Linked DNA regions of Homo sapiens. The protein of the gene in region 3 purifies or fractionates together with the protein of the main gene of each other region. This does not show direct contact. Each region holds a gene or a part of one and is shown on either strand. Other genes may lie near its edges. The genes, in order: HRG, KAT6B and JADE3.

Region 1 (4,439 bases), on a different chromosome or scaffold from region 3:
GTAATATACAGTTGTATTTTCCTGAGGAATGCCAAAAGCAACATGTGAGTAGCACATGGAAACCTAGCGGGTTTTTTTTTATGTATTAAAGCTATATATTTATTACTTAAACAGAATTCCTGTTCCTCTCACTGTCTTTGCAGATGCTCTACCTTTGCGTCATTTGATCTATTGATTCCAATACATAGCTTCAATGAGTTATTTCCAAATCTTTTTAAGTGGTCCTGATTTGTCTTCTGCCCATAAACTTGAAGAAGCTATCACTAAACGGCAGTGGTGGTTTAGCGGAGGCATCATCACCTACGCATGCCTGGAAGTATAAGTCATGACGACCTCATCAGGGCCTCCAATCTGTCCTTGTAGTTGTGTCCTCTTGCCCAGCTCTATTACTGATCATGGGATTTTCTGCTTTGATGTTGCTTTGCCCAAAGCTAAATCCTCTCTCTTCTCTTACAAACTAGCTGCCCTCTCCACTTCCCTCGTCTTTGTCAGTGGCACCACTAACAACATATTGCCTTAGACTCTGGGGTAAAACATGTAAACCTACGAGATGTTTTCCTTGTCCTTGCTTTTGCTATCCAGTACCAGGCCCTGAATGGTCTTTCTTGGCAACGTCTCTCATGTCTATTCCTCAGTCTCATTGCCCTGACTCCCACTAACCCAGGTCTGACCCTTGTTCTTTCATTCCTGAATACATAAATAGCTTTCTACTTCATGTCCCTGTCTCTTGCCTCAGTTTCCCCAGGCACATCAGGACCCCTCCCCATCCACCCGCTCTCTATGCTAGCTCTCAGAGGCAGCTCTGTGCTGATGCATCCTATGCCCTAACATGTGTTGATGAGCCTGGCATGGGACTAATGGTCACTGAATTACTGGTTGAATCCTAAACTCCTGCACACCTGTTCTCTGCAACCCACAGTGCCTCCCTCTGTGATACTTTCAGAAGGGTAAATTGTCCTCTGTAGTACTCCTTGTCTGGCCTCCCTAATTTCAGTTTTTCCATCAGAGGGAGAGTAGGTTATTTGGGGAGCTTAGAGGCAGGCTTCATGTCTCTCTATAATGTCTATCGGCTCCTCTAGTCCAGTTTAGGTAGGCGTGTAATCTAAGCGAAGACAGTAAGCTTGTTTCACCTCAAGACAAGCCCACAGGCTTGGCTCCTACCTGATGCCTGCTCCAGAGCCCACATGGAACTTCTGGAACCCACCTGCTTATATTCAATGGCTCCCTAACACCCTTCTTCCTGATTCCATACCCACCTAGAAGTGGTGGTGCCAGGAATTCACCAGGAACACATTTACCCAGACCTGTTCAAATCCTACCCATGCATCATTACACAGCAGAAGCCTCCTCCCATCCAGTCTTACTAGATCTCCCCTCATTAAATTGCTCCAGTACATTTACCACTCCTTTGGTCACTTGGCTATTGTTGGGGCTCAGAACATGGTATCTCAAAGTATGGTACTTTTGGCGTGCTGAGTCCTTTGAACTGAAGAAAATGGGAAGGGCCTCAGAAGCCAGATCTGTCTGACCTTCTGCCCTTTGTTCTCCTACTCTGCTTTCTCCCCCAAGGCAAGCCATAGAAACTAAAATTTCTCTTCTCCAGGACAGTCACAGATGGTAGAATCCCTCTCCCCGAAAGCATCCATAAATCCTAAAATATGAATCTAACCTTCCCCCTGTGTCTTTCTTTGTAGGAGCTGGCCATAAAGACATTCTCTGACCTACTCTGTTTGATAGTAGGTCCTCAGATCCGCATTCCAAAGGGATCCTGTCCCATACTTGGGAGCAAGAAATGCCACACAGAGAGGCCATGAAGAACTCAAACAGAGAGGCCTTGCTGGGTCCTTCTTTCAGTCTATGACTCTTAGATTACAGCCTTTTGTCCCATCACACTTCTGCATTCTGCACAGCCTTTGTGAATTCTAAGTATGCAAGTGGCCAGTTTCTTTGGATATCTGAGTCTTCATTTATGAAGACTCCAGTGTCAGGTAAACCTTGGATTAAATAAATTTGTATGTTTTCTTCTTCTTCTTTTTTTTTTTTGAGATGGAGTCTAGCTTTGTTGCCCAGGCTGGAGTGCAGTGGCATGATCTCGACTCACTGCAACCTCTGCCTCCCGAGTTCAAGCGATTCTTCTGCCTCAACCCCCTGAGTAGCTGGGATTACAGGCGTGCACCACCATGCCCAGCTAGTTTTTGTATTTTTAGTAGAGACAGGGTTTCACCATGTTGGCCAGGCTGGTCTTGAACTCCTGACCTCATGATCCGTCCGCCTTGGCCTCCCAAAGTGCTGGGATTACAGGCGTGAGCCACCGCGCCTGGCCTTGTCTACCAGTTTTATTTCAGGCTCAGTTAGGAGCCTTAGGAGGGTTGAGAAAACTTTTCCTTCTCTCTAGTTTATCCTAGTAACTTACACTGTTTGCCTGTATGTGCCAGTGTATTATTATTTCCTGGAGGCCAAGGCCCATAGCTTATTCTAATGTTTCTCTGGCAGTCCTTAGCATGTAACTGGGCTCAGCATAAATGCTTATATGTACCCACAAATCGAATCATAGTTGCGGGTACACTAATAACAAATATTAGTTTGAAGGAAAAAAGAACAATTTAGAGCAGCCGCAGAAGCCAAACAAAAAACTCTGACCAAAGCCATTCATTGTGCAAAGCAGTAAGCCTAGGGGGTAGAGTCACATTTGCCCCCGTGAGTAATCTCCCAACTCAGCTCTGCCATTGGCAATTCCTCACCACTCTGTCCAAGTGGGCATCAGCAATCCGCAGCAATTGGAAAAGGTAGCCATCCCGTCGCCTTTTATTGATCAGGTCTAGAGCTTTCTCAGCCTCCGGCTCAACAGCACTGCAGTCAGTGGGACTCACGGCACACGAATACTGCAATGTGATCAAAAGCAGTGCTGCAATGAGTGCCTTCATTTTGTTAAACCATCCCTTGCTATGATCTGCCACTGCAGAGAATTTTATACAGACTTTCTGAAACACACGCAATTGATTAAACAAAACCTTGATACATTTTTGTTGTGTAACTGAGGGTGTTCACCTTGACCCTGGGTTCAAATAACCATCAACAAGCTGTAAATGATTAGTGGGTCCTGGGGGCAGAAAGCTGAGAAATGCTGATGAGTGGGTGGAACTGTGATCTGCACAAATCTGGATTTTTCTAGTAGATAGCAGATCTAAAGTACGTCTTTGAATATAAGCAGTGCCTATGTTGGTGTAGGGGGTGGGGCTAGGGGTAATTTTCCTCCATCTGCCTGCCTGTCTCAGCTGGAAATCTCCATCATCAGTCAGTGGACTGATGGATCATGGCACTAAAACTCCTCAGTAGAAGGCAGCTGCATTATCTAAGCGGGGGAACATGTTAAACAGGTACCATTATAAAAGGAATGACTTCAGGTAAAATAGAACAATGAAGAGGCTGTCGTTTTGAAGTCAAATCTGAATTTCTCACCTGGCTCTATTACTTTCTTACTGTGTAATGCTGGGTAAGCAACAAAACTTCTCTGATAGTTCCCTCATTTACGAAATATGGATTGATACCTCTTGGCAGGCTTGTGTGATAATTAAATAAGAAATCAGGCTGGGTGCGGTGGCTCATGCCTGTAATCCCAGCACTTTGGGAGGCCAAGGCAGGCTGATCACAAGGTCAGGAGATTGAGACCAGCCTGGCCAACATGGTGAAACCCTGTCTCTACTAAAAATACAAAAAATTAGCTGGGCATGGTGGCACATGCCTGTAATCGCCGCTACTTGGGAGGCTGAGGCAGGAGAATCACTTGAACCCGGGAGGCGGAGATTGCAGTGAGCTGAGATCGCGCCACTGCACTCCAGCTCGGGCGACAGTGTGAGATTCCATCTAAAAAAGAAAGAAAGAAAAAAAGAAAGCAACCAGTATAATTCTTGGCATAGAGTAGATGCTGAATAAGTGATGCTATTTATTATTAGTGTGCCTGCAAAGAAGTTGGGGACACCTCATGCCACCCCAATTCCCTGCAAAAAGAATTGATTCACGTGGAAGAGGATGGTGGTGAGAGTAAGAGTCAAATAGTTGGATGCCCATCCCACTGTTAGAAGGGATCAGCAGGGGGGGACTGGGCTATGATACAGCTGACCCCCTACCTTCACACTTCAGAAGAAACCCGTATACCTATATGCAACCCTCAGACCAGCAGAGCCAGCAGCATCAGAAGGGACCAGAGGGAATCAGCCTAGGTTCCGTCCTCACTGCCAAGAAACAGCCAGTTAGGCAGCATCTCCATTCCTCCCTGTTCTATCCGCAGTGAGTGTCTGTGAGAGTCTGCAGTCATGTCTCTCAGACTCGGCTTCATGTTAGAATCACCCCAGGAGCTTTAAAAAGTCCTGATGTCAAGGACTCCTCCAGGACAATTTAATCAGAATCTCTGGGAGTGGACTTTGGTATTGGTAGTTTTT
Region 2 (3,650 bases), on a different chromosome or scaffold from region 3:
CTAATTACAAATTAGCTTTAGTTGGTTTTTGATGACAAAGACCGAGAATAATGTATTAAGGGAAAAAATGTGATTTTTTTTTTTTTTTTTTTTTTTTTGAGACAGAGTCTTGCCCTGTTGCCCAGGCTGGAGTGCAATGGCGTGATCTCGGCTCACTGCAACCTCCGCCTCCCGGGTTCAAACGACTCTCCTGCCCCAGCCTTCTGAGTAGCTGGGATTACAGGCACATGCCACCATGCCATTGTTTGTTTGTTGTTGTTGTTTTTATTTTTAGTAGAGACGGGGTTTTACCATGTTGGCCAGGCTGGTCTCGAGCTCCTGACCTTGTGATCCAGCTGCCTGAGCCTCCCAAAGTGCTGGGATTACAGGCATGAGCCATCATGCCCGGCCAAAAAATGTGATTTTTAAAAAACTTTTTAAAATAGAGATACAAGGCCAGGCTTGGTGGCTTATGCCTATAATCCCAGCACTTCGACAGGCCAAGGCAGGTGGATCACCTGAGGTCAGGAGTTTGAGACCAGCCCGGCCAACATGGTGAAACCCCATCTCTACTAAATACAAAAAATTAGCAGGCGTGGTGGCGCATGCCTGTAATCCCAGCTCTTTGGGAGGCTGAGGCAGGAAAATTGCTTGAACCCAGGAGGTGGAGGTTGCAGTGAGCCAAGATTACGCCATTGCACTCCAGCCTGGGCAACAAGAGCAAAACTCTATCTCAACAAAATAAATAAGATAAAATGAAGATACCAAAAAATCTAAATAAATAAATAAAAATAGAGGCGGGGGTCTCCCTATGTTGCCCAGGCATGTCTTGAACTCCAGGGCTCAAGGGATCCTTTCACTGTAGCCTCCCAAAGTAGTGGGATTACAGGCATGAGCCACTGCACCTGGCTGAGAAAAATCTGACATCTTAACTTTTTTATGATTCTTTTGAAAGAGAGATTATTACAGGATTCTTTGTTAACTGTATTACAGATGTCTTCAGACCAGATATCCAGATACCCTGAAAAATTCAGGTTCCCTTTTGAGAGTTTCATAAATATTATAGCTCTACTCTAAAAAATAAGCACATGTACCCATATACACTGGTATACATTTTTAAGGGTTAACAGACCTTCTGTCATCCAGCCATGGACCACTTAAGGTCCACTGGCTATATACAGAGAGGTATTTTATCCAGTTTCACAATAGTTAGCTTTGTGTGCTTTACTTAAGGCATGTTACATCAAGAGTAAGAAAGTTATTCTTTTTGGTTTTGGATGTTATCAAAAAACAGGTTTCTGACATTTTAATCAACAAGTAGGTGTGCTGTGATGGGAAGTATCAGAGTCAGGGATCCAGTCCCCATTCTGCTAGCTACCTAGGCTAGGGGATATTGGACATGCTACTAAATCAATCTAAGTCTCTGTTTTCTCTTCTGTAAAAATGAGAATACTTCTCTGTTTTACAGAACCGTTAAGAGGAATCACTGAGATAACAAATATGAAAGCAGCAAGGATGATGGCAGACACATAGCAGGAACACAATAAAATGCTAGCTCATAAAAGGAAAAAGGGCAATACAGTCAGCTGGAGACCTGTAAAATCTAATCTGGCTGAACTTCTGTCTATATGACCATTTTCTCCTAAGAGACAGGAGAAGTCAGCACCTGGCTCTTAGTTATAGCTGCAGAGAAGTAAAAATTCAAGACAGAGAACAGAAAAAAGTGAAGGAAAGCAAAAATAGATTGTAATGGTGAGGCTGGGGTCAAGAAGAGTGTATTTTACTCATAGTTATACATTGTTTAAGGTCAACAAAGCTTTAAAAAGATAGTACTGCATAGGAGAATATCTTATTGACCTCAGGGTAGGAAAAGTCTTAAAACAAGACACAAAAGGCACTAACCATAAAGTAAAGACCAATAAATTTGACTCCATTAAAATTAAGAACTTCTGTTCATTAAAAGACACCATAAAGAGAGTGAAAAGGCAAGCCACAGTATTTGCAACACACACACATGACAAAGGACTTGTATTCACAGTAAATAAAGAACTTCTAAATAGCAATAAAAGATACAAGGCCCAACTTTTAAAAGCAGGGTGGGAAAGACTTGAACAGAACTTTATAAATGAGGCTATCTAAATGGCTAAAAAAGTATATGAAGAGCTGGCCGGGTGCAGAGGCTCACGCCTGTAATCCCAGCACTTTGGGAGGCCAAGACGGGCGGGTCAACTGAGATCAGGAGTTTGAAACAAGCCTGCCCAACATGGCAAAACCCCATCTCTACTAAAAATACAAAAAATTAGCTGGTTGTGGTAGTGGGCACCTGTAATCCCAGCTACTCAGGAGGCTGAGGCAGGAGAATCGCTTGAACCCAGGAAGCAGAGGTTGCAGTGAGCCAAGATCACGCCACTGCACTCCAGCCTGGGTGACAAAAGCAAAACTCCGTCTCAAAAAAAAAAAAAAAAAAAAAAAAAAAAAAAAAAAATATATATATATATATATATATATATATATATATATATGAAGAGCTGTGCAATCTGATTACTAATCAGGTAAACGCAAAATTTACCATATTGGCTAAAATCATAAAAGCTAAAAAGGCTGAGATTGGAGAGGGCGAGAAGCAAGGGAATTCATATATTGCTGGAGGGAGTGTAACCTGGTACAATACTTTAGAAGAGTTTGGTACTTAGTAAAGATGAAGACAAGCATACCTTATGACTAGGTGACCATACAATTCATCATCTAACCCTAGATACTTTTGAAAACTAAAAGTGTTACAGTTACGCTGGGAAAATAAGCAAAAACCAGGACAAATGGTCACCCTAGCTATAAACCGGCAATTTCATTCCTAGGTGTATACCTTAGAGAAACTTGTGCACATGGGCACCAGATGACAGGTATAGGAATGCTCATAGCAGCTTTGTTCACAATTGCCCCAAACTTGAAACAACTCAAATATTCGGCAACAATGGAATAGATGATACGAAAATTGGTGTATTCTCTTTCTGGGGTCTGCGAGAAGACAGGTATCAGAAGATCATGGGAGTTCTATAAAAAGATGCTTAAAGGTGCTTTGGAAATGCAAATTAAGGCATTAAAGGGAAGAAATATCCCATCACCCCACTTCTCTCATCCACGCATCATTTACCATTCTGCAACAAAGACTGATCACTACAGCTTACACATCCCTACTTACATAAAATATTTTTCTTTTTTTTTTGTTTTTTTTTTTTTGAGACAGAGTCTCGCTCTGTCGCCAGGCTGGAGTGCAGTGGTGCAATCTCAGCTCACTGCAACCTCCGCCTCCCAGGTTCAAGTGATTCGCCTGCCTCAACCTCCTGAGCAGCTGGGACTACAGGCGCCCGCCACCATGCCCAGCTAATTTTTTGTATTTTTAGTAGAGATGGGGTTTCACCATGTTGGCCAGGATGGTCTTGATTTCTTGACCTCGTGATCCATCCACCTCGGCCTCCCAAAGTGCTGGGATTACAGGCGTGAGCCACCACACCCAGCCACATAAAACTATTTATTTAATCCCAGCACTCTGGGAGGCCGAGGTGAGTGGATCACCTGAGGTCAGGAGTTTGAGACCAGCCTGGCCAACATGGCGAAACCCCACCTCTACTAAAAATACAAAAATTAGCTGGGCACATGTCTGTAATCCTAGC
Region 3 (3,650 bases):
GTAGGTGCTATATGTGAGTGTCTTAAATTTTTAAAAGTGAGCCAAATCTATTAGTTCTCTTTCAAATTCTGGTAGCAGAGAAAAAAAAACACAAGCCATTTATAGATTTACATTTAATTAGAAAATTCTCTAGGATAAACACAGGGCTTAACTTACCTTTGAAGCCCTGCAGTATCTCATTTAGTAGATACCTGATAAATATACCATGAGTTATATTGAATTATCATGTGGAGTGGCTCTCAACTGGAGAGCAAATTTGGTAATTTGCAGACATTTTTGGTTGTCACGCTGGGGGTGTGTGTGCGGGTGCTACTGGCATCTAGTGGGTAGAGGCCAGGGATGCTGGTAAACATCTTAAATTGCCCCTACAACAAAGGACAGCCCCCTAACAACAAACAACTATCCAGTCCAAAATGTCAACAGTGCCAAGTTTGTGAAACTCTAATTTGGTGTTTTCCTGAACAAAATTCACTCTTTCTTCAGCCTAAAGTCTCATAAATATGTCAGTAAAATATGGATGGGCCAATTTAGGCTCAACAGTGAATAAAAAGTAAACCAAATGAGAGTTTATTTCAAATGTAAAGTTCATAGAGCATATACCCGAGGCCTCCCAAATCCCCTGGATGTGCCTGTCAGAATTTACACAGAGCCCAATGTCTGGGGCCATAAAGAGATCAGAAGATAAGCAAGGACACAGAAGCCCACACTATTATGAGCTGACTGACCATTATTAAACCAGAAGTGGGACCTCCATTTCTACACAGACCGAGGCCTATATACTAGTCACAGCTGGTCACCTTACCCTCTCCAGGTCCTGGCGTAGATGCATAAACATTCTCATTCGAGTGTGAATGCTTTCCTCTTTTGGCTGCACCAGCCCATTTTCTTCATCCTCCTTTGGAGGAAATAATGGCTTATTGAAGTTACTTTTCCGCTTCAGTTTCCAGTAGTTATAGATAAAGTCCACAGCTAGCGTGGGCATACCCAGCTCTGCGGCCACATCTTCCACTCGTACCAAGGAATAGAACTCCTCCTCCAGCTCCCGAAGCTTCTGTGCCCGCAGGCTGGTTTTCTCACTTTTGGCCTGGCTCTGCTCTTTAGCCCTGTGGTGGGGGTACTCAGCTTCTCCAAGTTTCTGCCTGTTTTGGCTATGCTTGAGGCAATATGACTTGAACTTCACTTCGTCTCCCTCATCTAGGATGGTCTTCATCTCTAGGCCGTGCTCAAAGGCACAGGTGACGTGGAAGGCAGTGATGCAGCTTTTTATAGAGCACTGTAGGAAGAAAATAGGTGTCAAGGTAGCAGAGTTGGAGGAAAAGGGAGAGACCTATGTTTCTGGACCTAAATTGATAGCTTGTAGGAAGCAAAAGAAAGACCGGGAGAAAGTTAGTCCTAAACTGACCATAACAGATGCTTTACAAGTAACCCAAGAAACCTGTTCTTACAGAAAACAGCAAACACAGAGGCCAAAAATAATTCAAACACTCCTTTTGAGGTTTCAGCTCAAGCATTCAAGCATCAAGTTTTCTGAGATGCTTTCCTGGGCTCCTGTAAACAGTCATGTAGTCTCTTCTCTGTGTCTCCCACATCACCCTATGAATGCTTTTAAAATGGTACTTTTCACACTGTACCTATAACAATTGTCAAGTCCTTAGGGATAGATCTTAAAAACAGAAGCTGTGTCTTTCATTTTGCATCGTCATTAACTATTGAAGAAGCAGTTGCTCAGAAAATGTTTCTAAACAAACAAAAGAAAACACACAAAGTGAGTATTATTGCTAGAGCATCCACTGGTTCTAAAAAAGTCATAGGAATTCCAATATCTAAGTAACCTAACTTCTTGAATTTTTTTTTTAAACATAAAAATTTTAGGCCAGAGCACAGTGGCTTACGCCTGTGATCCCAGCACTTTGGGAGGCCAAGGCAGGTGGATCACTTGAGGCCAGGAGTTCGAGACCAGCTTGGGCAACATGGCGAAACCCTGTCTCTACTAAAAATACAAAAGCTTTCTGGGCATGGTGGTGCATGTCTGTAGTCCCAGCTACTTGGGAGGCTGAGGCATGAGAATTGCCTGAACCCGGGAGGTCCAAGCTGCAGTGAGCCGAGATCACACCAATGTACTCCAGCCTGGGCAACAGAGTGAGAACCTATCTCAAAAAGAATTTTTTAAAATATTTAAAAATAGAGAATCTATGTTGCTCAGGCTGGTCTTGAACTCCTGGGCTCAAGTGATCCACCAGCCTCAGCCTCCTAAAGCGTTGGGATTACAGGTGTGAGCCACCATGCCCCGTGAAATTGTTGTTATAGAACTGAGCTGTCCAACTTGGTGGCCAAGTAGCCATGAGTGGCTATTTCATTTTTTAAAAAAATTTTTTTAGACGGTGTCTCACTTTGTCACCCAGGCTGGAGTGCAGTGGTGCAATCTCGGCTCACTGCAACCTCTGCCTCCCAGGTTCAAGCAATTCTCCTGCCTCAGCCTCCCGAGTAGCTGGGATTACAGGCATGTGCCACCATGCCCGGCTAATTTTTGTATTTTTAGTAGAGATGGGGTTTCACTATGTTGGTCAGGCTGGTCTCAAACTCCTGACCTCAAGTGATTTGACTGCCTTAGCCTCCCAAAGTGCTGGGATTACAGGTGTGAGCCACTGCGCTTAGCCTTAAATTTAATTAAAATTATGTATAATTAAAAAATTTAGTTTCTCAGTCACAGTAGCCACATTTTAACTACACTAGACAGCACAGACATAAAACATTTCCATCACTGTGGAAAGTTTTTTTTTTTTTTTTTTTTTTTTTTGAGACAGAGTCTCACTCTGTTGCTGAGGCTGGAGGGCAGTGGCACAATCTCGGCTCATTGCAACCTCCACCTCCAGGGTTCAAGTGATTCTCCTGCCTCAGCCTCCCAAGTAGCTGGGACTACACGTGCCTGCCACCACACCTGGCTAATTTTTTTGTATTTTTGGTAGAGACAGGGTTTCACTATGTTGGCCAGCCTGGTCTCGAATGCTTGGCCTCAGGTGATCCGCCCGCCTCAGCATGCCAAAGTGCTGGGATTACAGGTGTGAGCCACTGTGCCTGGCCCACTGTGGAAAGTTCTATTGAACAATATGGTTACAGACAATCTGAAATTAAGTTTATAATATTCTGCCATTCAGTCATAGATTTAACACATTTATTAAGCATTACTATGCAGTATGTACTGACTATTCATAGGGGGGGGCAAAGGGGGAAGGACCTGGCCCATGACTACTATACTCCTGTGCTTCAGTTAGCCTTAATTACTATTTGTTATGGTTACAATGTTACAGCTTTCCTTCCAAAGACTGACTGATTGATTGAGACTGGGTCTCACTCTGTTGCCCAGGCTGGAGTGCAGTGGCGCGATTTTGGCTCGCTGCAACCTCTGCCTCCCAGGCTCAAGTGATCCTCCCACCTTAGCCTTGTGAGTAGCTGGGATTATAGGCGTGCGCCACCAAGTCCTGCTAATTTTTGTATTTTAGTAGAGACGGGGTTTCACCAATTAGCCAGGCTGGTCTCAAACTCCTGACCTCAAATGATCTGCCCACCTCGGCCTCCCAAAGTGCTGGGATTACAGGCATAAGCCACTGTGCCAGGCCTAATTTTTTTTTTTTGGGAGACAGAGTCTCACT

What was found.
Region 1: the proteins of JADE3 (region 3) and HRG purify together in Homo sapiens (affinity purification with mass spectrometry, with the first as the bait; one large-scale study listed by BioGRID). This does not show direct contact.
Region 2: the proteins of JADE3 (region 3) and KAT6B purify together in Homo sapiens (affinity purification with mass spectrometry, with the first as the bait; one large-scale study listed by BioGRID). This does not show direct contact.

The regions. Positions count from the first base shown.
Region 1 is NC_000003.12:186,664,517-186,668,955, reverse strand, and holds the start of HRG (histidine-rich glycoprotein precursor), read right to left. Parts: upstream 2,943-4,439; 5' UTR 2,925-2,942; coding exon 2,742-2,924; intron 22-2,741; coding exon 1-21. UniProt on the Homo sapiens protein: Plasma glycoprotein that binds a number of ligands such as heme, heparin, heparan sulfate, thrombospondin, plasminogen, and divalent metal ions. Binds heparin and heparin/glycosaminoglycans in a zinc-dependent manner.
Region 2 is NC_000010.11:74,829,583-74,833,232, reverse strand, and holds part of KAT6B (histone acetyltransferase KAT6B), read right to left. Parts: intron 1-3,650. UniProt on the Homo sapiens protein: Histone acetyltransferase which may be involved in both positive and negative regulation of transcription. Required for RUNX2-dependent transcriptional activation. May be involved in cerebral cortex development.
Region 3 is NC_000023.11:47,051,781-47,055,430, reverse strand, and holds part of JADE3 (protein Jade-3), read right to left. Parts: intron 1,274-3,650; coding exon 803-1,273; intron 1-802. UniProt on the Homo sapiens protein: Scaffold subunit of some HBO1 complexes, which have a histone H4 acetyltransferase activity.